Regions from separate parts of the Homo sapiens genome. Here region 2 is linked to region 1. Evidence: fine-mapped expression QTL. Tissue or cell type: lung. Region 1 holds a variant in brackets; the other region holds the start of a gene. All regions are shown on one strand. Distances are between the middles of the regions.

Region 1 (12,538 bases):
TTAGGGCTGTAAACAGGTGTTTTTGCTGAAACTCTGTTTGGAGAGCAGGTAGATTCCCAGATACCTCGCTTCTGCCCCAAAGAACCAGGCAACAATCTCTCTCCCACACATCAGAAGCTAGAGACTTTCTCTATGAATAAATCGTGGCAGCAACACTCAGCAGAGCAGAGAACTGGAGGGGGTGCTATGCTGACCATGAGGGTTAAGTGAAATTCTATTATGAGGTGCTGCTCTATTCTTCTGCTCAACTCCAAGAACACGAGCTGGGAAGCATAACCTTCCAGGCAGAAAATGGAAAGTTTCCTCCATGGAGTAACTGAACACTCCATGAGAAAAACCTACTGATAGTGAAACTTTCAGTGTCCCTCTCCCTATTTCCAACCCCACAAGCCTGGTCTGCCCCCGCCAGATCATCCACAGTGAAGCTCTGCATCATATAAAGCTTCCAAACTAGGCTCTTCATGCCTCACTTTAAGTGGAATAACAACCAACGAGGTCAGGCATTTGAAAAAGCCTCTAATATAAAGCTAGAGACTAAAGTAAACAAACAAAAATAAAGAACTTGGGAAAAAAAACAAGAGAACAAACACAGGGAAGAGGAAAATATCAAATCAATCTATAATTAGCATGTTCAGAGTCTAGGATAAGAAGAAATAATGCACTCACAAGACAAGAAAATATTTTCTTTTTTTTTTTTTGAGACAGAGTCTCACTCTGTTGCCCAGGCTGGAGAGCAGTGTTGCAATCTCAGCTCACTGCAACCTCCGTCTCCCAGGTTCATGCCATTCTCCTGCCTCAGCCTCCTGAGTAGCTGGGACTACAGGCGCCTGCCACCACGCCCGGCTAATTTTTTGTATTTTTAGTAGAGACGGGGTTTCACTGTGTTAGCCAGGATGGTCTTGAACTCCTGACCTCGTGATCAGCCTGCCTCGGCCTCCCAAAGTGCTGGGATTACAGGCGTGAGCCACCAAGCCAGGCCGAAAATATTTTCTTTAAAAGGGGAGCATTCTGGCAATGAGAAAGGACTCACAGAAATTAAATTATGATAATAGAATTTTCTTAATATGGGAAAGAAAAAGCGGTTGAGTAAATTCCCAAAAACATCAAACAAAAAGACAAAGAGATGGACAATAGGGGTAAAATGGAGGTTAAGAAAATTAAAGGTTAAATCCAAGTGGTCCCACTAATATGAGTTCTGGAAAGAGAAAGTAGAATGAATGAAATTATCAAAGAAATAATATCGAAATATTTCTCAGAATTAAAGTATATGATATTCTAGACAGAAAGAGCCCAGAACAGTATATACAAAAAATAATCATAACCAGTCATATCAAATTCACACCAAGGATCAACATTCCAGTAGCCTCCAAAGAGGGAAAAAACTGTCACATTTAAATCAAAAGGCATTGAACTTCTCAACAGCAACACTAAGACCTAGCAAATAATGAGTTGTGATTTCAATATTCTGAGGGAAGCCTCTTTCCAATCCAGGATTCTGTTGCCAAATGCCAAATGCCAAAGCATCATTCAGGTGTGCCGAGAAAGAAAGGGCATTTCGAGTATGCAAATGTCAAACTACTTATCTCCTGTGTACCCATTTTTGGGAAGCTACTCACAGATGAACTCTATCACAAGAAACAGAATGACACAAGAAAAACGCAGACATACGAGTCAGGAAATGGAAAATCCAGCAAAAGAGAGAGAGCTAAATCAAATGCTTTAGATGAAGTCCCAGGGTGACAGCAATGCTGTGGCCCTAGAAAGCCCCCATTCCAGACTGCAGCAGTCACCTGAGTGTTTCAGAAGTCTGTCTGCAAGCAGAAAAAATGGAACTCATGAATTAGCTGATGTTTTAAACATTTTAAGAGAAGTTTTACAATTCTATTAGAGAATTGAGGAAAAGAATTGTTGATAATTTAGCAACAGAAACAAAAGACAATTATTAAAACTGGGAAAAACTAAATTGTAAAGAAAAGGATATATAATTATAGTGTATTGCATAGTTCTGTTATGAATAATATTTATACAGCCACGGTAATAAAGACGTTTATAATTACTTTAAAATAAAAATTGTGGGCTGGGCGCGGTGGCTCACGCCTGTAATCCCAGCACTTTGGGAGGCTGAGGCGGGCGGATCACGAGGTCAGGAGATCGAGACCGTCCTGGCTAACACGGTGAAACCCTGCCTCTACTAAAAACACAAAAACTTAGCCGGGTGTGGTGGTGAGCACCTGTAGTCCCAGCTACTTGGGAGGCTGAGGCAGGAGAATGGTGTGAACCCAGGAGGCAGAGATTGCAGTGAGCCGAGGTCGCGCCACTGCACTCCATCCAGCCTGGGCGACAGAGTGAGACTCTGTCTCAAAAAAAAAATAAATAAAAATAAAATAAAAATTCTGATACATGTGTATTATTAGGACGAGTATAGGAGGTATGTACATAGCAAATGTGTATAGCAGGGTGGATACAAGAGAGCAAAAAGTCTTATTTCTATAGCAGGAAGTCAAATATTTAAAAATAAATCAAACATTTAAAAACAAAGAAAAACTATTAGGAATCTGGAGGTAAGTGCCAGAAGAAACTTCTAAAAGGTTTAATGTGATTGCCTCTGGGAAAAGACATGGGAAAGAACAAAGCAACTTCTGACTTCCAGGAGCTAGCCTGGCACTACCAGCAAAGCCTTGGGGTTGCTACCAGCTGTCCTGGTACTCACAGCTAGGTGTTAGTATTCTGTTGAACATTAAAAAAAAAATTAACATGACATCAGCACTATGATGGATCAAAACAAATTGAAAATCACTCTACAATCATGTCTAAACACATGAGCATTGTTCAAGCCACAAAATACGAAACATTCCCCTCTCTCAGCTAATACGAATGAGGACTGCTTCTTAACAATTGCATCTTTAGCATTACTCTAGTCTGCCCTCTCTAAGGATAAGACTTATCGAGATACCCAATCACAGATTATAACCACTTTTAGAGAGCATCCAATTCAGAGCGGGAAACTTCCGTCGAGTCACCCAACCAAAGCCCAAATCCTGTTATAAGTCCCTTTTAACATCCTTCACCTGAGACACCCCAGGATTCTCTGTGGTGTGAGTTTTCCCTCACTGAAATGGGTAGTGAGTCCTGCTTATTCAATTATAGGTGTGCTCCTGACGGCCTTATGCTGGAGGACAATGACAGATGCTCAGGTACTTGGGGAGGAAGAAGAGCAACCTGCAAGGATCTGTTGCTTTTCTTTCAAGTTGTTGTCATACTATATGATTTTTTTAAACTATGTGTATTATATTACTTTGATATAAACTAAATTCACATGTTAAAAATGAAATAAGCCAAATGTTGCATTCCCTAGGGATCATTTGATGGTGATATTAAGGTTGACACAGCGCATCACTTCAAGTGGGTTACTTCAGATCGGCTAACATACACTCCGTTGAGTTTGTAAGAAGTAATTCACCATTTGAAAATGCTTGGAATTTGGTGGCACATGCTCAAGAATGAACTCAAATTTAAAGCAACAAATGGGCTGGGCATGAACTTCAAACAGAGGTAGAGTAACTACCACCTGGTAATGGCTTAATATCTCATACTTCATCCCGATCACAGAGCTCTAGATACAGCAGAAGGTCAACAAATGTTTGATGATTAAGAAAATGTTGAAATGTAATAAACAATCCACACATTATTTTAAGAATATCATCATATCATTCCCCCACCTAGAAAATAATTAATAAAATTCCTTAATATCACAAAAATGTGGTCAGGTTCAAATTTCCAATTGTCTCTTAAAAGTCACAATTATTTTTACACAATTTTTAAGAATTAGGCTCCAAATAAGGTCCTAAAGGCAACTAACTCCCTTTTAATAATTCTCATATGAATTATGAAAACTGAAAAATGTATTTGAAAAAACATATACCAACAATGGAGAAATTTAATTATAGGCTGGAAAATTATCTTTCATTTTTGTCATTTTTATGTGGATGAGGAACAGACGTAAGGGAATTAATTCGAAAGAAGTCACCAAATTTGAAAAGTCAATAGACATATTTGCAGAGATATTTTCATTCCTTTGTGTTTAAGTAAATTCTTTACCATTCCATTAAAGTAGTTACTGATTTTGACATGTTTTGTTTTACATAGAAGTTTAGTATGAAAGTTCTTACTGGCAAGTTCTGCATTCACTATGTAAAGAAAATGGCTTGTTTTGGTGTCAAGAACTGAACTAGAACTGAAAAGTAATTACGAGTATTCAATTATTTGGTTAACAAAAGCGCCTTCTTAACACCATTAATGGCCTCTGAAATCAACATCAGTGTTTTCGATTACAGCTTTGCAACATGTCGCTGTGAGTCATTGTTGTGTTTGTAAAGATTATGACTCTTTATACAGTCATGGGCCTGTGACATGAAACCAGTGAAATAAATTTTCATGAAACCAATGAAATAAAAACCAGACAATTTTATCTTCTGTCAAAATCTTCTGAGACAAATGTTCAAATGAGGGTGTGCCAATGCATTGCTACAGTATACTTTATGGTATCATAGTATTTGGGATGTGTTTCTGTGCCATCTTCATTGCTTGACTTCTACCAGGATGTGAATAGTGATTTGAGAAGTAGTTCTGAAAAAGACAAAGAGGAAACACATGAATGAAAAAGAGTTTTTTAAAAAGAAGACAAAGAAAAGGTCTCATATGTGTTGACACTAACATATTCCTCCCAAATCACTTCCAGGTTCTCTGTTTTACTTCTGGACAATCATAACAAAATTCATCAATTAAACATGACTGTCCTATTCTACATCTTACCTCCATAAAAAGTCCCTTCTACATGCACTCCATGACATCTCTTAGAGACGTCATACACTCATCCCTTTGAATGTTGAATTGTCAGCAGAAATATCCCTCGCACTGTAAAAATAAATTTGCAAGAATCAAATTATTCAGCATAAACTCAACCCTCAACATCAAGAAAACTCTATCTTGAAGTAGGGAAATGATGCAAAAGAATGCCTAATTTGTTGCTTTTTAGAAATATTTGAGCTCTTCCAGCTAAATTTCTATGAGCTGAGAATACCTCAGGACCCCATAGTGTTCATCATTACTAAAAGGATGACATTGTATACAATGAGCCTCCAAGAATATTTGTTTCTCAGAAAAATGAATATATATATATTATAAATGGACAACATTAAGCTATTTAGGAGTATAACTATTTCCCCTCTTAGACTGTTGCTATCTTGACACATTTGACCTTATGCTATCAACTATCTTACATTATTTATATCCACTATAGGCATTAACCATGTCCAATATCAGAAGAGAAAATGTTATCAATCTTCTTTTTTACTTTACTTCCCCTCATCACTGTTCTTATCACCAGGTTCAGGGACATTCTAGAACCTCAGCAAGTGGCAATAGGTGGGAGGAACAGCCATGGCCGGCCCTAGGCTAGCATGTTTATTATGAAATTATCACCGACATCTCCTTTCTGGCCATGTTTCCCATCCATCTACCCCTTTCAGCGTATCTTCCAAGTTACCCTTTATCTCTTGCTGCCTTGTGTCATCTGTCAAAAATCACCCAAATAAACCCACTTGCATTAGAGTCTTGGCAGGTGTTGATTCTCCTCAGCAGCATTATTTGATTTTTTTTTTTGACACAGTCTCGCTGTGTCACCCAGGTTGGAGTGCAGTGGCACAATCTTGGCTCACTGCAACCTCTTCTTCTGGGGTTCAAGCGATTCTCATGCCTCAGCCACCAGAGTAGCTGGGACTACAGGGACACAACACCACCCATGGCTAATTTTGTAATTTTAGTAAAAAGGGGGTTTCGCCATGTTGGCCAGGCCAGTCTCAAACTCCTGGACTCAAATTATCCACCCACCTCGGCATCCCAAAATGCCAAGAGCCACCGTGCCAGGCCCTATTTGAATTTTTAAAGAATGAACCTGTAATAATAAAATCTGAAGCTTCTATGGGATGCCTTTCCAGGTGCATCTCAGCCTATGTGTTAGGTCTGTATGTGAAATGATATCATTAGAAGCATGTTGTTTTCAGCATTGTCAGAAATACATAACTACTAACTAGTTCATTTCTTAATTCAGAATTAGCTGTAACATTCCAAGGAAGCTGCATTTGATTTTTAAAAATTTATTTTACCTCCTTGTGATAAAAATGAGAGCAATGGTGAATTAATTTCTATCCTAGTGGAGAAGTCATTTTTGTTAGACAGAGTCTATCCAAGATTGTGCTACTGTTTAAAGATGTTATTGCAGTTACTGGCAGACCCAGATAACAGCTCCGATGTAATCCCAGATTCCCATATTGAATTAAATCTGATTTGGGTTATTTAGGTCACATATTGAAGAAATGCCCTCTCCGTGTCATTTCTCTGTAAATAGTGGGTGTCCTTTGGTTTTCTCTATAATATACATTTATTTTTGGAGCTCATTAAACAGGTTAGGTAACTTAAATAGGTCTAGTCAGTAGACAGGAGTTAAAGCTGAGGATAGAGAAACTCTCTGTGGTATTATCTAACACACAAGATGAGGGTTGTTCTTAATTCTTGGCTCTTACCTACAAAAGCACTGAGAGAGCCATTTGAAAATAAGGTCTTAAAATCAGATCCATATTTGAAATGGAAAAAAAAAGACATCACCTTTTATATTTGTGTTTCTTAGGAATATTAATTTTGTTTTAAAAGCAAAAACTTTAATAGACAGTGGATGTTATAAGAGCCATTTTGTCCAGGTGGGGGTGAGAGTAAGGAAATTCGAGCTTAAATAGTATAATACAATTTGTTTTCCCCATCTCTCTTCTCATAACTGCTTTTGTTGCAAATACATAGTTGCAATTGCTTCTTAATCTTAAATCAGTCTGTATTTTTGAAAGTCTAGAATAAACTGGGTGCTTAGGAGTTAATGATCTCATTATACTTCAGTAATGGTGCCATATGAATTCATGTGATTATACAGGATAGTACAATAAAGTCAGAACCTCTGGTGGGAAGTGGCTTCCTTGTGTCTTGAGGGACTTAATTCCTCAGTGTCTCAATTATGTCCTAAGAAGGACCGATGGTACTAGGAAATATATGCCAGAATGTTCAGTACTAGAGGACTTCTCTTATTTCAAATGTACAAGAGTAATAATATATTCACTCATGAGAGAAACTGGTGCCTCTGTTTGGGTTCTTTTAAAAATCACAATTTCATTCATTAAATTTTCAAAATGTTAAAGATAGCTTAGAATAGTAAAAAGGAGTAATTTCTAAAAAACTGATGATTACTAATTCAATATCTGGAAGTACAAGGAGCCCTTGGATTGTATTTTATGAAATAAGCTGTAAGATTTTAAGATATGGATTGTTAACATATTCAAAATAGTCTTATTAAAAAACTCTAGATTTTTTTTTAAAAAACAGACTTTCAAATATTTTACTGTACTTCACTTGGTCTCATTTCAGCAATAAGATCTAAACTTAATACCTGGAGAATAATCTCAACATTCTTAAGGACCCAGAAAGTGGAGTACTTCAAAGATAGCATGGGACATGCCATAAATTAAACAAACAACAACAACAAACGCAAGAAAATATCTTCAGTATGCTTTTTGAGAAGAGGTAATTCATACGAGGACTA[T/C]TTATGAGTAAATCAGGGTGTTATGATGACTTTTTAATGAAAGTTGGAATTCTTATTCTGGTCCAAAGAGATAGCCATGTGTTTGAATGACCTTGAAGACTGTTATTTTGAACCATTACGTAATCCAGCAGCTGTGGCAATGCCCTTTTCTGAGATACACAAACAAAGAAGCAAAATAGAATAGACAAGTGAATTCTTGAGAAAGTTTGCACATCGCCATGTAGCTATGTGTGTAGAGTGTCAGCCTCCATACAATGTTAACTGTTTCCAAGTGATAGTGGTGATGCCCAACCTGCAGTTTAGCTGTGAGATTTGGGCCAGTAATTGATGTTACAGCCCATTTAGGGACGACTTTAATTAACATCACCTGTGAGCCATGAATAGCGCAAACAGCAAGTCAAGATCATCAACAGTCATCCACTGTAGGGAACCAAATGTATTACCAAATCTCTGCTGGCTAAAAATGAGGACTGCTGACCTGTATAACTACATATTACAGAGAATAAGAGCCCTAAAGTGAGTCATTTGTCCATCAGCCAATATAGATTGTGTTTATTGTATACTAAGCATTGTTCTAATCTTGGAGGTGGCTTAAATAGTTTTTCTCTCTGTGGATCTTAAACATCTAGCTGGAGTGACTAAACTTGCGTTTGATAAAGATCAAAGAAAACTAAAAATGTACATTCAAAAGAGCAAATTAGCAATGTATTAAACAAGATTTTTAAAGAATGCATGAAATAGACAAGAAAGCAATAGAGAGAAACACAACCAACAGATGTCAAATATCAAAAACTTGAGACATCCTCAAATGCAACTTCAAACTGTTGCATAGACCTCGATTTGTGGAAAGAACGGGGGAATCACAGATGAACCAATAGTGTAGCAGTCAGAAGAACTTCACAGTGAAACCAGCCCCAGTGATGTAGCCACAGCTGTGAAGCTGTTTCCCTCTGTCATCTTGTTATACCAAGCACATCTTGTTTCCATGGGGACAAGAATTCGGAAGCAGCCATATCTTGAACTTAAAAGAAAGAAAGAAGGGTCTTCTGGGTTATATACCAATTTATTATTAATGACGAGACATTCTTCTGCTCAGTCCTTGAATTTCTCATGCTGGTGGATTTAGTTTAATTTGGTTGATCCAGAGAAGACTTTGTGGATGTGAGTTTGAATGAAAATGTACAGTGTTTTTTTTTTTGTTTTTTTTTTTTTTTTTCTGGCCTACAATGTGTAAGCCATGAAAGAAACAGTTTTACTCCTGCCTGCTCCTTCTCTAGGTGTTCCTGGGATTTTTACCTCTGCTGTATATTACTTGCTAATGCAACTTTTCCCCTATGTTTACTCTCAAATGACTTTCTTGGATACAAAAAGGAGAAAACATAGTAGTATATATTATCAGATAATTACTTCTAGCCCCTTTCAGCCGAATCTTGAGATTGGAAGTTTGGATCCCTTACAAGTCTTCAGAAAAGTCTTTTATGCTGTGGCTGATTGCATTAACTACACAAGATACAGTTTCCTTTGAGGTTTTGAAAGATACATTTTTTGGAGAGCCTCAATACTGAGGTAAAATATAGCTTATAGCACTTCATAAGATCAGGCTGAAAGGACTTCTCACAAGTAGACAATTCTATTTCAATATTTTTGAAGAAAACAAGAGCAACCACCATAAACAGCTAAACAAAACACCAGAAATATAACAAATATCAGTGGCATCTAAGTATACATATAGAGTTATACACACATTCTATCATAAATTCCATGTCTTATGGAGAAATAAAATTCATCCATTTTGGTGAATGCTAATAACTCCCACTTTAGACACTAAGCTTATCAAGATAACATAAAAGCATGTTTATTTACCAGATGTTTGCTAAGCATCTACTATGTGCTTTCACATTTGTGTGCCTACTCTTCTAGGCACTGAGAAGAAAAGTTTCATTTCTCAGGCAGCTGAAATTAAAGTATGTATCTTACGTCATGTTTGTGTAGGTTAGCCTACATGGCACAGCTAGCTAGCTAACTATGTTAGTTGGACTTAAATAAACACATTTCTATTGCTATGTAATCTGCCCATATCATATAATTTTGTTTGGAGATCAAATTAATGCTACAGGTAAATAAATACTCAACCTGTTGCAGCATGCAAAGACTATCTGATATTTCACAACAAAGTTAATGCCAAGGTCCTTCAGATGGTATTGCTCTATCATGACTGCTAGAATGAAGTAATTGGTAACAGCTATGCTTGAAACAAAGCAAATTGCTGTATTTCTAAATAGTTACTGAGTCTATTCTTTGTTGTTGTCAAGCTTAGAATCTTTTTTGCACAATATATACCAAAACAGTATGTTTTTAAGCTGGTTATATAATAGTTTCACAGAGCTACTATAATGACTAAGAAATTGTAGATGCTTTTGTTTCATTTTTTCTCCCAAAATGAATTAGCTCTTTTGACTGGTTAAGGATCCATTTTCATGACGTCAGACCACTGAATGGAATTTTGAGTTCTTAGAACTTCAAAAGCTTCATTATCTGATGTAACATTCAAATCTAATTTGAAAGGAAATGCTTCATTACAGTCCATGTCCTCAGCATGTCTTTGTAAAGAGAAAAGAGTTAGGAAACTTCCTCTTGCATAGTCACCTCTTAATGTCATTCTTGAATGTGTTCTCCTATGATAATTAGATGTTTAAATATTGAAATAGAATAAGTTTAAATTCAGAAGAAATCATACAATTCCAGAGCTAAAAATGATCCCTTAGGTCTTCCTAGTCCAACCCTCATACTTTATGAATGGAGATACCGAGGGAAGAGCTAGCTGGCTCTCATGATACTACAGAACCAGATCTGTAACCAATCAGCTTCGTGTTCCAGTGCTGCTACCTGACACAGGTTAAACAAAAAGATCCATTCCTTTAAATAAAAAGCATGAGATGTAAATTCGCATGCTTGCTTGAATTGAAACTATTAAATTTTTCACAACTCCCTTCAGTATTCTTTCTTTTTTTGTTCTTTTTTTTAGAGATGAGGGTCTTGCTTTGTTGCCCTGGCTGGAGTGCAGTGACACAATCATACTTCACTGCTGCCTCAAATTCCTAGGCTCAAGTGATCTACCCGCCTCAGCCTCTTAAAATCCTGAGATTACATTCTTGAGCCACACCACCTGGCCTGTTTATTTCTAAAACTTCATCAGTGATTTTTAATCATGGTTTGGGCATAGTAAACATTGATATATACGTACATGTATAATTTATTTAAAATTTTATAGCCTACTTATTTCCATCCCCTCTAAAAAATCCAACTATTTAAGCTTACCTAAAATAAACTCACAAACAATATAAGTACTACTAATAAAGTTTTACAAATAAAAAATTATACAGGGAAAAGAGAAAAAGAATTACTAGGAAAGTGGAAACATCATTCTTAAGCATTGACCTTCACACTGAGTTTCCTGGCCATCAAGGCAATGGCAGAATAAAGTCTTAGTCCCATTTTTAGATGAAAGGAGGTATAAAACATTTCTGCCAGGGAGAGAAAAGGGGAGGTAGCTGGGAAAGGCTTGGTTTGAACTTGGTTGAAGAATAAAAAGAGGGAAGGAAGAAATGAAGGAAAGGGAAGGAAGGAAGGAAGGGAGGGAGGGAAGGAGGGAGGGAGGGAGGAATGAAGGAAGGAAATTTGAATGGGAGCATTTTAGATGGACCCTGCAGTTTTAAGGAGTGATCAACCTAGCCATCCGGGAGGTATCAGGTACTGAATTACAGATGATTTTAGCATCTAGATCTTTATGTAAAGGATTATTAATATAATGAACAAGGTCTCCAAAAGAGGCTTTGAAAAAGCATCAATATTTCTTTCTGGTTCTTATATTGAATCCAGTGAAAGCATTTGAAAATTAAACTGTCTTCCTGGGAACTAATTTTCTTTTAGGCAATAGAGTACTAACTTAGCATATTCTTGATCATCTCAATGGAAGCTGAAATAGAAGATAAAGCAATGGAAGAAAGGAAGATGAGCTTATCCTTTATAGTCTTATTCAAATATTAGATCAACTATGCTTTGGGCCAGAATAAGTGTCAGTCCATTCAATGTTGCATTATATACAGTGAGGTGAAGCGTATCTTCACCTACTCGGATTTCCTGGAACTTGGAAAACTTGCTATATTTTCTCAGATACTCTTTCAGAGATAACTTCACTCTAGACAAAAGACTAGTGGAAGTGAGTGAGAACATAGGCATGGAACAGGTAAATTTCCATGGATGTTCATCCGTGTGGTCTCAGGACAACTGGATTTTCCCATTCTAAGTACACTTTCCAGACATAGCCTGGCTTCTGTTAGGGAAGGAAGGGTATGTGAACTATGAGTGTAAACTCTATATAAAGAAACTCTTATCTTGAAACTCTATGTGGTGAAAAAAAAGGTCTAGAATTAGCACCCAGGCAGTTTTGTTGGTCTAATCAAATTATAGAGGTCAATTTTTCTAAATTAATTATTTGTTTATTAACTTTCCTTTTTTTCCCTCTTTGGTTCTAGACCTTATTTTCTTAGTGTGCTAACATTTTTCTTTCGCAGTTGTGTTCATCCATGTCATCCAAGAAGCAAATAGCTGTACCAGATTAAACATGTAAGAAATTTATTAAGGGAACTGCCAGAGAGAGAAAAGGGGTGGGAGCTGGGAAAGGCTTGGTCTGACCTTGGTTAAAAAAGAAAAACAGGAAAGGAAGGAATAAAGGAAAGAAGGAAGGAAGCAAGGAAGGAAGTTAATTTTGGTGGAATCATTTTAAATGGGTCCTGCAGCCCTGCGGTTTTAAGAAAAGATCAACATAGCCATCTGGGAGGTCTCAAGCCAAAAATCTCTACTCACAAAGGACTTCTGGGTTTCCCAGCAACACAC
Region 2 (12,538 bases), 28 kb after region 1:
AAATAAAATAAAATAATAAAAATAAATAAATAAATAAATAAAGTATTCCAAGTATGCATAATGCAAGACTGACTGACAAGAGTACTCAATAGAGATTTTTTAAAAAAAGGGCAGTAGGAGAATCAGGAGAGAGTATTATAAATTCCTAAATATAAGGTACATCATTTCCCCCAAATAAATAGTGTCTCAGAACAAAAGGTCCTTATTATCAAAATGTTAAAAAGCTTTCTCTGAGGCATCACAGCATAATACTTAATGCATGTACTTTGAATTCACATTATCTCAATGCCTGATTACCTTATTTACTACTCGTGAGTTCTTGGATAACCTTTCAGTTTCATCATTGGCTAAAAGGGAGATACTGATATTACTTACCTCCTAGCCCTGCTGAGAGAATTTACAAAGCTAATAATGTGTCACAATGCCTGGTACAAAAATATATGTGTCATAATTTATTTATTATTTCTATATTTCCTCCCATTATTGTACATTAATCTGAATGGCAAACTACTAAACTCCTGAGGTTGAAGAGGTATCTGCACTCCCATGTTTACTGCAGCACGGGTCACAATATCTAAGATATGGAATCAACTTGTGACTATCAGTGAATCAATGGATTAAAAAACATGTGGCATGTATACACAACAGAATACTATTCAGCCTTAAAAAAGAGGAAAATCATATCATTTGTGACAATGTAAATGAACCTAGTGGGAATTATGTTAAGTGAAATAAACAAGGCAGAGAAAGACAAATATTGTGTTATCTCACTTACACATGTAATCTAAAAAAGCTGAATTTATAGGAGAGTGGAATGGTACTTAGCGGGCTGGGAAAGGGGGGAGTTGGGGTGATACTGGCGAAAGGATACAAAATTTTGGTTAGATAGAAGAAATAAGTTCAAGAGATCTAGCACACAATATGGCGATTAAAGTTAATAACAATGTACTGTATTCTTAAAAATCCCTGAGAAAGTAGATTTTAAGTGTTCTTACCACAAAAAAAAAAAAAAGAATGCAAGGTAGAGCATATGTTAACTATCTAGTTTTAGCCATTCTACAATGTAAACATATTCAAAACATGTTGTCCATTATAAATATATACATTTTTGTCAATTAAAACTTTAAAAAAGAATTTACCTTTTTCCAGGCCAAAAAGAAAGCTTGTATCTAAAGCAGAGAATAAGCTACTGAACAAATAAATATAAGAGGATGTGATGAAAAACGTCTTAGCCAAAGCTCCCCCAGAAAATACAGCCTGAGGCAAAAACCTATATGTGAACTCTTTACTGGGGAGTGGATCCCTGGGAGCAGGGCTGAAGGATAGGGCTGAGATGGTATACAGAAAAGCAACAAAAAATATATATCAGAAATATGCCTGTAGTGGCCAGGTTCGGTGGCTCATGCCTGTAATCCAGCACTTTGGGAGGTCCAGGTGGGCGAATCACTTGAGGCCAGGGGTTTGAGACCAGCTTGGTCAACATGGAGAAACCCCGTCTCTACTAAAAATACAAAATTAGCCAGGCATGGCAGTGCATACCTGTAATCCCAGCTACTCAGGAGGCTGAGGCAGGAGAATCACTTGAATCCAGGAGGTGAAGGTTGCAGAGAGCCGAGATTGCACTACTACATTCCAGCCTGGGTGACAGAGTGATGAGACTATGTCTCAAAAAAAAAAAAAAAGGAAAAAAGAAAAAAATCAGCCCATAGTGATGAAGTCGTTGAATGTTAAAATTTGAAAATGTGAATTAAATATTTCATAAAATATAAGTGGAAATAACAGTATAGTTTAAAATATAATTTTACTTCTATAGATATTCATCTAAATTGATGAATTAAATAAGTAGACATTTGCTTATTTTATCTATATACCTAATTTTCATATTTGGCAAAAGCAATACTGGATTTTCTTTTAGAAAAAAAAAAAGGAAAGATTATTTTAAATCCTGTTGTGTACATATTTCCGAGTATCAGAGATTTTGAAAGTCTTGAGAAGGAGGTAGGATTTGAATCAAATCTTGAAGAATAATTTGAGAAGATAAACTAAAAGTAAATGCATTGAGGGGTTACTATTTTTTTAGGTGCTGTAGATATATAATCATATTAAATTCTCATAGGTATTATTATTCTCAGTTTACATATGGGGAAACTGAGGCTCAGGTAAGTTAATGAATTTGCTTAAAAAAATGCCGCAACCTATACTGGTTCCATCTTGAATGCAGCCTTTTCCAAGCCTTCTACTTTCTTCAAGACACAATACAGTGCAGAATAGATCCTGGAGAAGACTGGGTTGGAATTCTCCCTCCCGTACAGTCCTAATTGTTTGATTTGTGTAAAGCATTCAATTTTTCTGTCTCTTAAGTTTTCTTATAAAGGAGATAACATCTCTCCAAGGAACTGCTGAGATACTTAAATGAGCTCTTGTAATTAAAATGCCTGGAACAGCAATTGGCACACAGTGCTCAATGGGTATTAGCCATCATGTTGTAAGAAAAAGTAGAAGGAGGAAAAGGAGGGAGAGAGGAGAGAGTGAGGAGGAGGAGGAGAGGAGGAAGATTTTCACTCTCTCAAATTGTCTCCTCGACAAGTAAAGCAACAAGAGATCACAATAGTAAATACATAGATAGGCACAGACACATCTTTACCTGCTTTTTTACTAAAAATCTGGGAAAAATGTGCAGGAGCTCGTCATTGTGGAATCATTTCAGCCTAGATGAAAATTACTGGGAATATATGTTCCAATGGTCTTGAGATTAAACATATTTTCTTACCTTTTTTTTTTTTTTTTTTGGAGGGGAGGGGATGGAGTTTCAGTCTCATTGTCCAGGCTGGAGTCTGGAGTGCAATGGTGCAATCTCGGCTCACTGCAACCTCCACCTCCCAGGTTCAAGCGATTCTCCTGCCTCAGCCTCCTGAGTAGCTGGGATTACAGGCATGCACCACCATGTCCAGCTAATTTTTTTGTATTTTTAGTAGAGATGGGGTTTCGCCATGTTGGCCAGGCTGGTCTCGAACTCCAGACCTCAGGTTATCTGCCCGCCTCTGCCTCCCAAAGTGCTGAGATTACAGGCCTGAGCCACTGTGCCTGGCCCATACCTTAATCCTTGTAAAGCCAATTTCCCTGTGTACTTTGCTCTCTGAATACCTCACTGTGAAGGTTGCAAAATAAAAAATTTATACCCTAAGAATATAGCCTAAATGTATTCAATGTATTCACTATTTACTACTTAACCTCTTTAAGTTTCAATTAAACCTATATTTATAAAATTGAAAAAAGAATTTTAACTCACACACGTTGTGTATACACAGCATATATGTTAGGTATTTGACTAGAGTCTGGTGACTATCGATCAATTAATAAAAGATAGCTTTTGCCGTATTTCCTCAGACATTTTTATTTTCCTCCATATATTAAGATTCATTAAACCAGAATACATCTTATAACTAATGTATACATTCAATAAGTGAGCATTGTTCTTCTTTATTTCCCAGGGCTATTATGAAGTCATTGTTGTACCTTGTAGCATTTACCTTTATTTCCCCTCAGAAAACATAAATCCAGAGATTGCATTGTATTTGCTAAACACTGTATTTTCAAAATGCCAAACAGTGATTAATAATTTTTAAAGAATAAATGACTGAATAATAATCAAAGAACTAAGATATTTTTGCGAAGAGGGAGAGAGACAATTTCTCAATTAGTTTATAAAATCTACCAAGCGAAGTAACTTGAGGACAAAGCAATGATTGAACCTCCCACACATAAGATAACTGATCTAATAATTTTTATTTATAACCCACCTTGTTTAGAGAAGGACCGAAGATGGCTTACAATGATAAAAATAGAGCCAGGCATGGTGGCTCACGCCTGTAATCTCAGCACTTCTGGAGGCCAACGCAGGCGAATCACTTGAGGCCATGAGTTTCAGACCACCCTGGCCAACATGGTGAAACCCTGCCTCTACTAAAAACACGAAAATTAGCTAGGCGTGGTGGTGCATGCCTGTAATCCCAGCTACTCAGGAGGCTGAGGCGGGAGAATGGCTTGAACCCAGGAGGCGGAGGCTGCAGTGAGCTGAGATCGCGCCACTGCTCTCCACGCTCCAGCCTGGGCGATACAGCGGGGCTCAGTCGAAAACAAAAACAAAAACAAAAAAGAGAGAGATAAAAAAAAAGAGAGAAGTATGTGAGAATTTGGAGAGGGAAAAGGGAAAAAGAACAAAAGAAACACACACACACAGAGAATGAAGCCAGAAAAGAGCCACATAAATAAAATTCCTCCTATAAATGCTATAGGAATCCAGAGAAAAAGTTCCCGTGGTTTGGAAAATGTCAATAAAACTTTCCTGGTGGAAATGAGGTCGGCTATGAGGTATTAAGTTCAAAAGGAACTGGATATTTGGTGTCTCTAGTAAGACAGAGCTGCTTCAGAGTCTCCCCAGGGAAAGACGGTGCTTTGGGCAGGTAGTTAGTGTGGGTGAAGGTGATGACTGAAGAATCCTAAGGGCCCAGGCTTGTGGGAAGCCTCTCTCTTTCCGCACTTCACCAATTATCTCATTTTCATAAGGTCTGCGCTTTCCTTAATTGCTTCACTTCCATCAACAGGAACAGGGGAAAGATAAATACATTTCACCTTTTAATGAAGAGAATTTCAGGTAGTCTGTGGGAGATGTTTATAAAAAAAAAAAAAAAAGCTGGTAGGGGGCAGTGTCTCACGCCTGTAATCCCAGCACTTTGGGAGGCCGAGGCAGGTGGATCACTTGAGGTCAGGAGTTTGAGACCAGCCTGGGCAACAAGGCGAAACTCCGTCTATACCAAAAATACAAAAAAAATTACCTTGGCTGATGGTGCGCGCCTGTAATCCCAGCTACCTGGGAGGCTGACGTGGGAGGATAGCTTGGACCCAGAGGCGGAGGCGCAATGAGCTGAGATTGCCTCACTACACTCCAGCCTGGGTGACAAAGTGAGACCCTGTCTAAAAAAAAAAAAAAAAAGTAGTTGGTCTGTGAACTCACTTGCAAATAACTGGATTTTACGGACGCTTAGATATTTGGAGGTCCACAAGGGTTCTTTGGGATCCCCTATTTTCCTTCGCTGCCTCCTTTGTCAGAGTCCAACTCAAAGGGGAAATGCCCCTCTGGGATCTAACCGCCACAGGTGCAAGAAGGAGCAAATTTACATAGAAGCAGCCTGGGGAAAATAGTGCCCTAGATGAGTCTTCAGTTTGGGAAACGCTGAGCTAACACTTTAAGTACTTGGAAGAGTAATACTAATAATCAGTCGTGGCGAGGTTCCGCCCATTTGACATTCAACCCCCCATGAGTGCGCACAGACAAACCCACTGGCCAGGAGGAGCCAACACAAGGTCCTGGGCATCTCCGTCCCGGGAAGGTGGGTAATGCCCCTGTCGCTCTGGGCTCCAGGGCGCGCCCCCGCAGCTTCCCCAGCGGGGTCTGACGCCTCCGGGCCGAGGTGCGCCAGGTGGCGAGGGTGCCAGGCGCGGCCAAGTCGCGGCGGTCTGAGTCAGTCACCCAACTATGCTGCGGAACCAGGGAGGCCGGCTGGGCCGCCCCCGCCGTTGAGCTCCGGCTTCCCCCGCGCGGGGCGCCTGCTCCCCGCCCCCGCGGGCGGAGAGGAAGCGGCGGCCGAGGCGAGGCGCGGGAGCACCTGAGCAAGGCGCGGGCGCCGGGCTCGGCGTTTCCGGAGCTGAGCGCGGGTCCGCGGCCCGCGCTCCCCGCCTCCAGGTGCGGCGGCCGCGACACGCCGGCCCCACTAACAGCGCCGCCCGCGCGGCCGCCGCCAGGCAGCAGAGGCGACTGCGGACAGCCGGCGGGGACCGGGAAAGAGGAGGCCTGGCGCCTCCGGCAGAGGGGCGAGGACCGAGCGCCCAAGGCTGGGAGAGACGCCGGCGCTGAGCTTCCCAGCGCCGCCTCACCTCGCTTTTCGAACTCCGCGACCCGAGCGCAAGGCGAGTACCCGGGGCCTCGGGAAGGCTGGGCCGGGATGGCCCACGCGGGGGTGGGAGGACCCTGTCTGGAGGGGCTGGGGCTTTTCGACACTTCACCGGGTAAATTTCCTCAGCGCAAAGTGCTCGGCTCTGGTGTCCGCCCCTTGGATTTCGCTCCCGCGTGTGGGCGTCTGAAAGGAAACCAGAAGCCGGTAAGTGATCCAAGAACTCCACTTCTGGGATTTGACCCGGGAGGGTGAGGATCCGGATAGACAGCTGGACACTCCCTCCATTCCTCTCCCCTACCTTTAAATAAGAAGAAGCTGTAGTGAGTTTCAGGCACCAAGTTATTTACTCGGTAGAGATCATGAATTTGCCCGGGTGTCTGTGCTGCCCCGCACCCTGCTTGTTAACCACGTTAAGACGACTGGCCTGTTAATTAACTTTAATTACGATCATTTGGCTTCCACCTGCCTGAACCCGATACCTTACACGGGAACCTGTATGATGTGAGTTTACCAGATTGATCTTTCTTGTTTACTTTTGGAGACAGTTCTCTTGGGAGAAGTGGTGTCCATCCTATTTAATAAAGTAAGTTTTACTTTATCTAATTCTGGCTTGTTTTCTTAAACACCTCCTACCTTGAGGTGATCTGGAGTTATTTTGATTTGGGGAAAGGGTTCGTGGATTATATAGCCTTTGATAATTAGAGGAAAACACAAGAAAATAAGCTAATTTGTGTGGAATAATGACATCTTAGGGTGTTGTAAGTAGGTATCCTGATAGCAAATTCTTTTTTTTTTTTTTTTTTTTTTTGCAAGCTTGTCCTTGAAGTAGGCTGTTCAGTAGAATACAGCCTTCGGTTTAAAAAAAATCAAGAAGTGTATTGAAAATAAGCTATTTTTAAAAGTACATTTAATAGGATGTCATTGTTATTACTCATAATAGTATTGTACTTACAAGCTCAGTATTGATTTATCTGCACTTAAGCACTCTACACCCCCACAGGCCCATGGAACTTTGCCCGTAAGTAATTGGAAGATAAAAAGCAAGCTAACTTTTTTTAAGGAAAAAAAGAGAAATACCTTTAAACTCTTTTTTTTTTAACTCTTATTTATGACTTCCATACACTTACAGGAGAAATATTGAGAGAAAATACTCATGACATTTTTTGTCCAACAACGTTTAAAGAAGAAAAAAAAGTGGGTCATGGAACTAGGCTAGGGTTAAGTGCAAATATCTTCCTGGCTTCTTTCTAAACATATTTAACACATACACATTTAAGGTGGTTCCTAACACGAAGAGGGTTTTATATAGATTTGTCAGTACTCAAAGATTTATTTGAATTAAAATGTACCTAGAGGGTAAGTGAGAGAGCTTGTTAAAACGTATTTATATGGGTGTGTGCTTGTGTTTGTATTTTTTCCTTCGTCTGTAAACCTGTCAGATTTTATGTGGCTTGTCTGTAAAAGGAGAAGCTGATGGTACGTTTAAAAACAAATTCTTGTTTTTCTAATATCACTGCAAGCTCCTTGCAGTGTAAGGCTCATGGATATGCAATAATATCAGATCCAACTATTCTTGGATACTGTGGAGAAGTATAGAACTCAGATTATAATGAATTACAGTTTTCTTAAGAACTTTAACGCATTGAAACTATGAAGTTTTAAAGTCTACGTAGAATTCTGGGTTATAGACTTCATGATATATGAGAAGTTTTTTGTTGTTGTTGTTGTTTCGTTTTGTTACTTTCTAACCCACCTCCCTGCAACTGTGAGAAAGTTTGGTGAAAGTGACTATAAAAATGCTAAGTATAAATAATAGTCATTGCTTTAATAGTTTTCTTTTAGCATACATTTCCACCTGTCCTCATTTATTTATTGATACATTTCTTGGATACAATCTTTGCACATGCTACATTGTAAGAGTTTTGGGAATTCTTGGTGAAATATTAATTAGGTAGAGAACTTCTTAATAATCTGGGAAATATGTCTTAGCTTTGACCACATATGGTGGATGTGAGATTAGAGGCTATGAGACGCTGTCTTAATCTTTTCTGCAAAGTTCTGGACCTTGTAATTTATCATTTTAGTTATTACTTGTAAGTATTGGCCAGATTAAATATATAATGGTAGTTAAACCATTTTGCTCACTTGTTTCTTCTTTAAATGAAGCAGTACTTAATGGTATTCTCCTCACGTGATCTTTTCTAGTTAGAAAGTTGTCCTGTGAAATTTTGTTTCAGTTTCTGTTCAGCACAAGCTTACTTATTTACCCATGCTGCAGAGAAAACAAAGGAGGCCTGATTTGGGTTGAAGCAGTGGTTTAGGTGGCAGATTTGAGATTTTTTAGAGTTCCTGAGAACTCATGAAGGATGATGGGGCCACTTCTCCATGTATTTAAAACAATACTAAAATATAAAACCATGTGGAAATTAGGGTCATAAAATTGGATTTTTCTCACCATTACAATTTAAGTGTTTTTTTTGGAATATATCAAATTCTTTGCAAAAAGTTGTTTTTTTGTGGTGTCTTTGGTATTGTTTATTGGCACTTACTGAGTAATAATGAACTGATTGTTCATATACGTGCCATTTACCTTTTCTTATAGTCATGTCTCATCTACCCTTTTAGATTGTAAACTCTTGGAGGGAAGACTGTATCTTCACTTTCTTTGTAGCCCTTAGCACTGTTGTCAAATGAGACAGTAGAGGCTGTTATCTTGAACACCAAATATCTCCCTCTCTTATCTTGGAGCGAGTAGTGTTGCTTAATATATATTGAATGAATACATGTTAAAAAATGGTCCAGTAAGGTAGGAGACGTTTTCTGAAATGCCCTCTTTTTATAAGAAAAAGAAACTTTGACAATTGCTAAACCAATAGGAATAAACCCTCAAACTCAGTTGGAAAAGAGGTCAGAGTACTATTTATAAATGCAAAGAGAGGAAACACAGTAGGCTATTCTGAAACATCTGGTTGTTTGTCTAAAAATATGACTTACATTCAGAGAAATGGTGGAGTATATACACTTATACAAAAGTTTTAAAATTCTGCTTTTGTAGAAACTCTAGAAGAATAAATTATTCTCTGATATCCCAAGAATTATGGCTTTACCTTAGGGATCTCTCTACATTAGAATTTTTAAAAATTCTCAAATCTTAGTGAATTAACTTAAAATCTGGATGGACAGCTTGAAAGGAAAAGACTTACAGAAGCTAAGGAGATTATCAAGCATTTAACTATTGCGATATTATCCAGAACACCTAAACCTAGGTACCTCCTATGCTACTAATATGTTCTTATACTAAGTAAAGGAATTTGTACTTGTGGCCTTCACTGGATGGAAATTGTTTTTAAGTTTTAGGTTTTTTTATTGTGTTTTTCAGATTGTGCTATAAGTAAAATAATCAAAACATAGCTTAGACAATCCTTACTCCTTGATCAAAGCTATGAAATGATTTTGCCCAGAGCCTACCTATTTTCAGCTAAAATTTCCATTATTCTCCATCCAGAAGACACTAATTAAATGCTTGTTGCTTACCAGGCACTGTTCTAAGATTTTAATGCATATGCGCTCATTTCATCCTCAAAATATCCCCGTGAGGTAGGCACTATTATTTTCCCTGCTTACAAATGACAACAGTGAGGCTCAGGAAAAGAGAGGAATTCTCCCAAGGCCACACAGGTAGCACATGGCAGAGCTGGAATCCCTGGTAAATCACTGTGCTTTGTGTCCCAGGTGTTAAGTCTTCAGGTGAAATTATCATCATTCTTACAACTCTAACTACATGTATACGTTACTACATTAATAAAACTATGTTAACTGCTGTGTTAGGTGCATTGTGGGTTTATTAGAAGAATGATTTACAGTGATAATTTAAAGGAATGTAATACTACTATGCAGACCGAAGAATTCCATTCAAACCAAGTGCAATATAGTGGTATGAATATGATTAAAGGCAATATTGTATACAATGGGTGAATTAATATTAGCCAACGTTTATGGTGCAGTTGTAACTCATGTCAGGTATTCTTATATATCTTAAATTTTTACTTGTTTAATTCTAATAGAAATACTATACGATATAGGGTATATTACCCTCATTTTATAAATGAGAAAAACAAGCTTCAGGGAAGTTAAATAACTTAAGTTACATAGTTAAAAAGTGGGGAAGCCTGGACTGGAATTCGGGCATTGTGCTATCTATACTACTGCCTGGGTGGAACTAATAAGGGATTGAGGAGGGATGGGATAGGCAGGGAAGCCTCACGAATGTGGTGTTACCATACTTGTAAGACTTGAATTGGCTCCCAAAGGAGAGAAAAAAAGTCCAGGTATGTACAGGGAGTTCCATTTGAATAAGAGCTGAGAGACTGGCCCAAATCTTCTAGTCTGTTTTCTGATCTCCTTTTTTACTGGGTAAAAATAACACATACTATAAAATTTACCGTCTTATCATTTTAAAGTGTATAGTTCAGTAACGCTAAGTATATTTACAATGCTGTGAAACAGATCTCCAGACCATTTCCAGTTGGTAGAACTGAAACTCTATGCTTGTTAAACAACTCCTTACCTCTCTTCTCCTCTCTGGTAATCATGGTTCTACTTTCTATGAATTTGACTACGGTAGATACCTTATGTAAGTGGAATCATGTATTTGTCTGTTTTATGACTGTTTTTTCACTTAGCATAATGACCTTCAAGGTTCATCTGTATTGTAGCATGTGACAGTATTTATTCCTTTTTAAGGCTGCTTAGTATTTCATTTTGTGTATATACCACACTTTATTTATCCATTCATCCATTCATCCATTCATAGATATCTGGGTTGCTTCCACTCCTTATCTACTTTTGCACCACATTTGAAGTTAAACCTTTAAGATCATAGTCAGGTATCTTTTTTGTGTTAATACTTTCTCTTCTTTTTTTTTTTGAGACAGCATCTTTCTCTGTCCCTGTAGTGGCGTGATATTGGCTCACTGCAACCTCCGCCCACTGGGTTCAAGCGATTCTCATGTCTCAACCTCCTAAGTAGCTGGGATTACAGGTGTGTGCCACCATGCCCTGCTAATTTTTGTGTTTTTAGTAGAGACGGGATTTCACCATGTTGGCCAGGCTGGTCTCAAACTCCTGACCTCAGGTGATCCACCCACCTTGGCCTCCCAAAGTGTATGGGGATTACAGGCGTGAGCCACCATGCCTGGCCTTAACACTTTATTTTCTCGTCAAGCACATTTGTTTTTGTTTTTGTTTTTGTTTTTTACCATAACCATTGACTTCATGTGGGCAGTGAATACTTATTTTGGTCATATTTGATTATTTGATTTTGGCTTCATATTGTTGCATTATATCAATTGTACTATAGTCCTGTGTTAGCTGTCTTTCTGCAGTGATAGATGCAAAATAAATTTTAATAGACTAAATTCTACATTACCATTGCTTTATATAGCAATTACAAAGATGTTCTCCCTTAATTTGTCATTGGCTCTCAACTCTCAGGCAATTAAATGTAAATGAATGTAGGCTTCCAGGTTTAGCCACGTACATGGACACATATCAAACTTAAATGGTGTATAAAACTTGAATTTGCAAGATATGGTATATTTAAACAGCATTTCCCTAGTGTGAATATAAGCCCTTATGAACAGCTAGACAAAGGAGAGGGAGACTATTAAGTCTTTGCTACCTCTTTACTATTAAATCAATTTTATATCTACTATGAGGCTTTACAGTTTATAGCACAGGTTGTGGAGTCTGACTCTTAGAAACACTTAAGTTAGTGTTTCCACTGTTTATCTATTGCGTGACATTCAGCGTCGGATTTTCCTCCTCTGCAGCTGTGAGGAGTAAATGAGGTCCTACAAAAATGGTTTGCAAACATCCACAACTACTGGTTATTATTATTATCAATGTCATTCTGAGGGAGAATGAAAGAAGATGGATGTGTTTTGGTGGGTGGGAAAGAAGTAGTGGTTGAGGTAGAGAACAGGGTACAGAGGAGGTCAGAGCCTGTGAGTGACCACAATTTAAAGAGATGACCACATTGAGGGAACTGGGCTTCCTGTAAGGGGTTTAATGGGGCGGATGTTGCCACACACTAAGGTAAGTGAATGGATGGCGGAGGAGAGAGATGCCAAACAACCAGTTTTATACTTTTTCTGGGGGCTAAGCACTCAGACTAGAAAAATAAGTTAGCAGGCCTGACCTTCATCCTTTTGCAGTCTGCTCTATACTGTGGGATGGAAGAATATAATCATAAGCATATTTTCTCTAAAACACTTCCTCTTTTACATGGTTCTTGGAAAGAGTTAAGTTGAACATGTCTTTATCTATACTTGGAGTGAATATCTTGATATTAGTTTGCTTGATGTGCAAATAACACGGTACCTATTTCTGTGTTTTGTACCAAAGCAAAGATGGTGTATTAGTCCACTTGTATTGCTGTAAAGGAATACCTGAAACTGGGTAATTTATAAAGAAAATTGATTTATTTGGCTCACAGTTCTGCAGGCTGTACAAGCATGGAGCTGGCATCCACTCAGCTTCTGGTGAGGCCTCAGGAAGTTTACAATCATTGTGGAAGGCAAAGG

Evidence for each region.
Region 2: it holds the start of ARAP2, and the variant in region 1 is fine-mapped to the expression of ARAP2 in lung (TOPMed, PIP above 0.99).

Annotation. Positions count from the first base shown.
Region 1 is chr4:36,265,323-36,277,860 of GRCh38, reverse strand. LOC439933 (a long non-coding RNA gene) reads right to left here. Exons shown (of 5, transcript NR_122079.1): 4 at 4,813-4,914; 5 at 3,646-4,626. Among named protein-coding and RNA genes, the nearest start is that of DTHD1, 10 kb to the left of the region's middle. The variant T/C (reference allele first, on the strand shown) is at 7,643.
Region 2 is chr4:36,237,608-36,250,145 of GRCh38, reverse strand. It overlaps ARAP2 (ArfGAP with RhoGAP domain, ankyrin repeat and PH domain 2), which reads left to right and starts at 5,632. Exons shown (of 33, transcript NM_015230.4): 1 at 5,632-5,967. LOC439933 (a long non-coding RNA gene) reads right to left here and starts at 6,030. Exons shown (of 5, transcript NR_122079.1): 1 at 5,935-6,030; 2 at 4,836-4,974; 3 at 1,540-1,664. RefSeq lists a silencer at 5,257-5,836.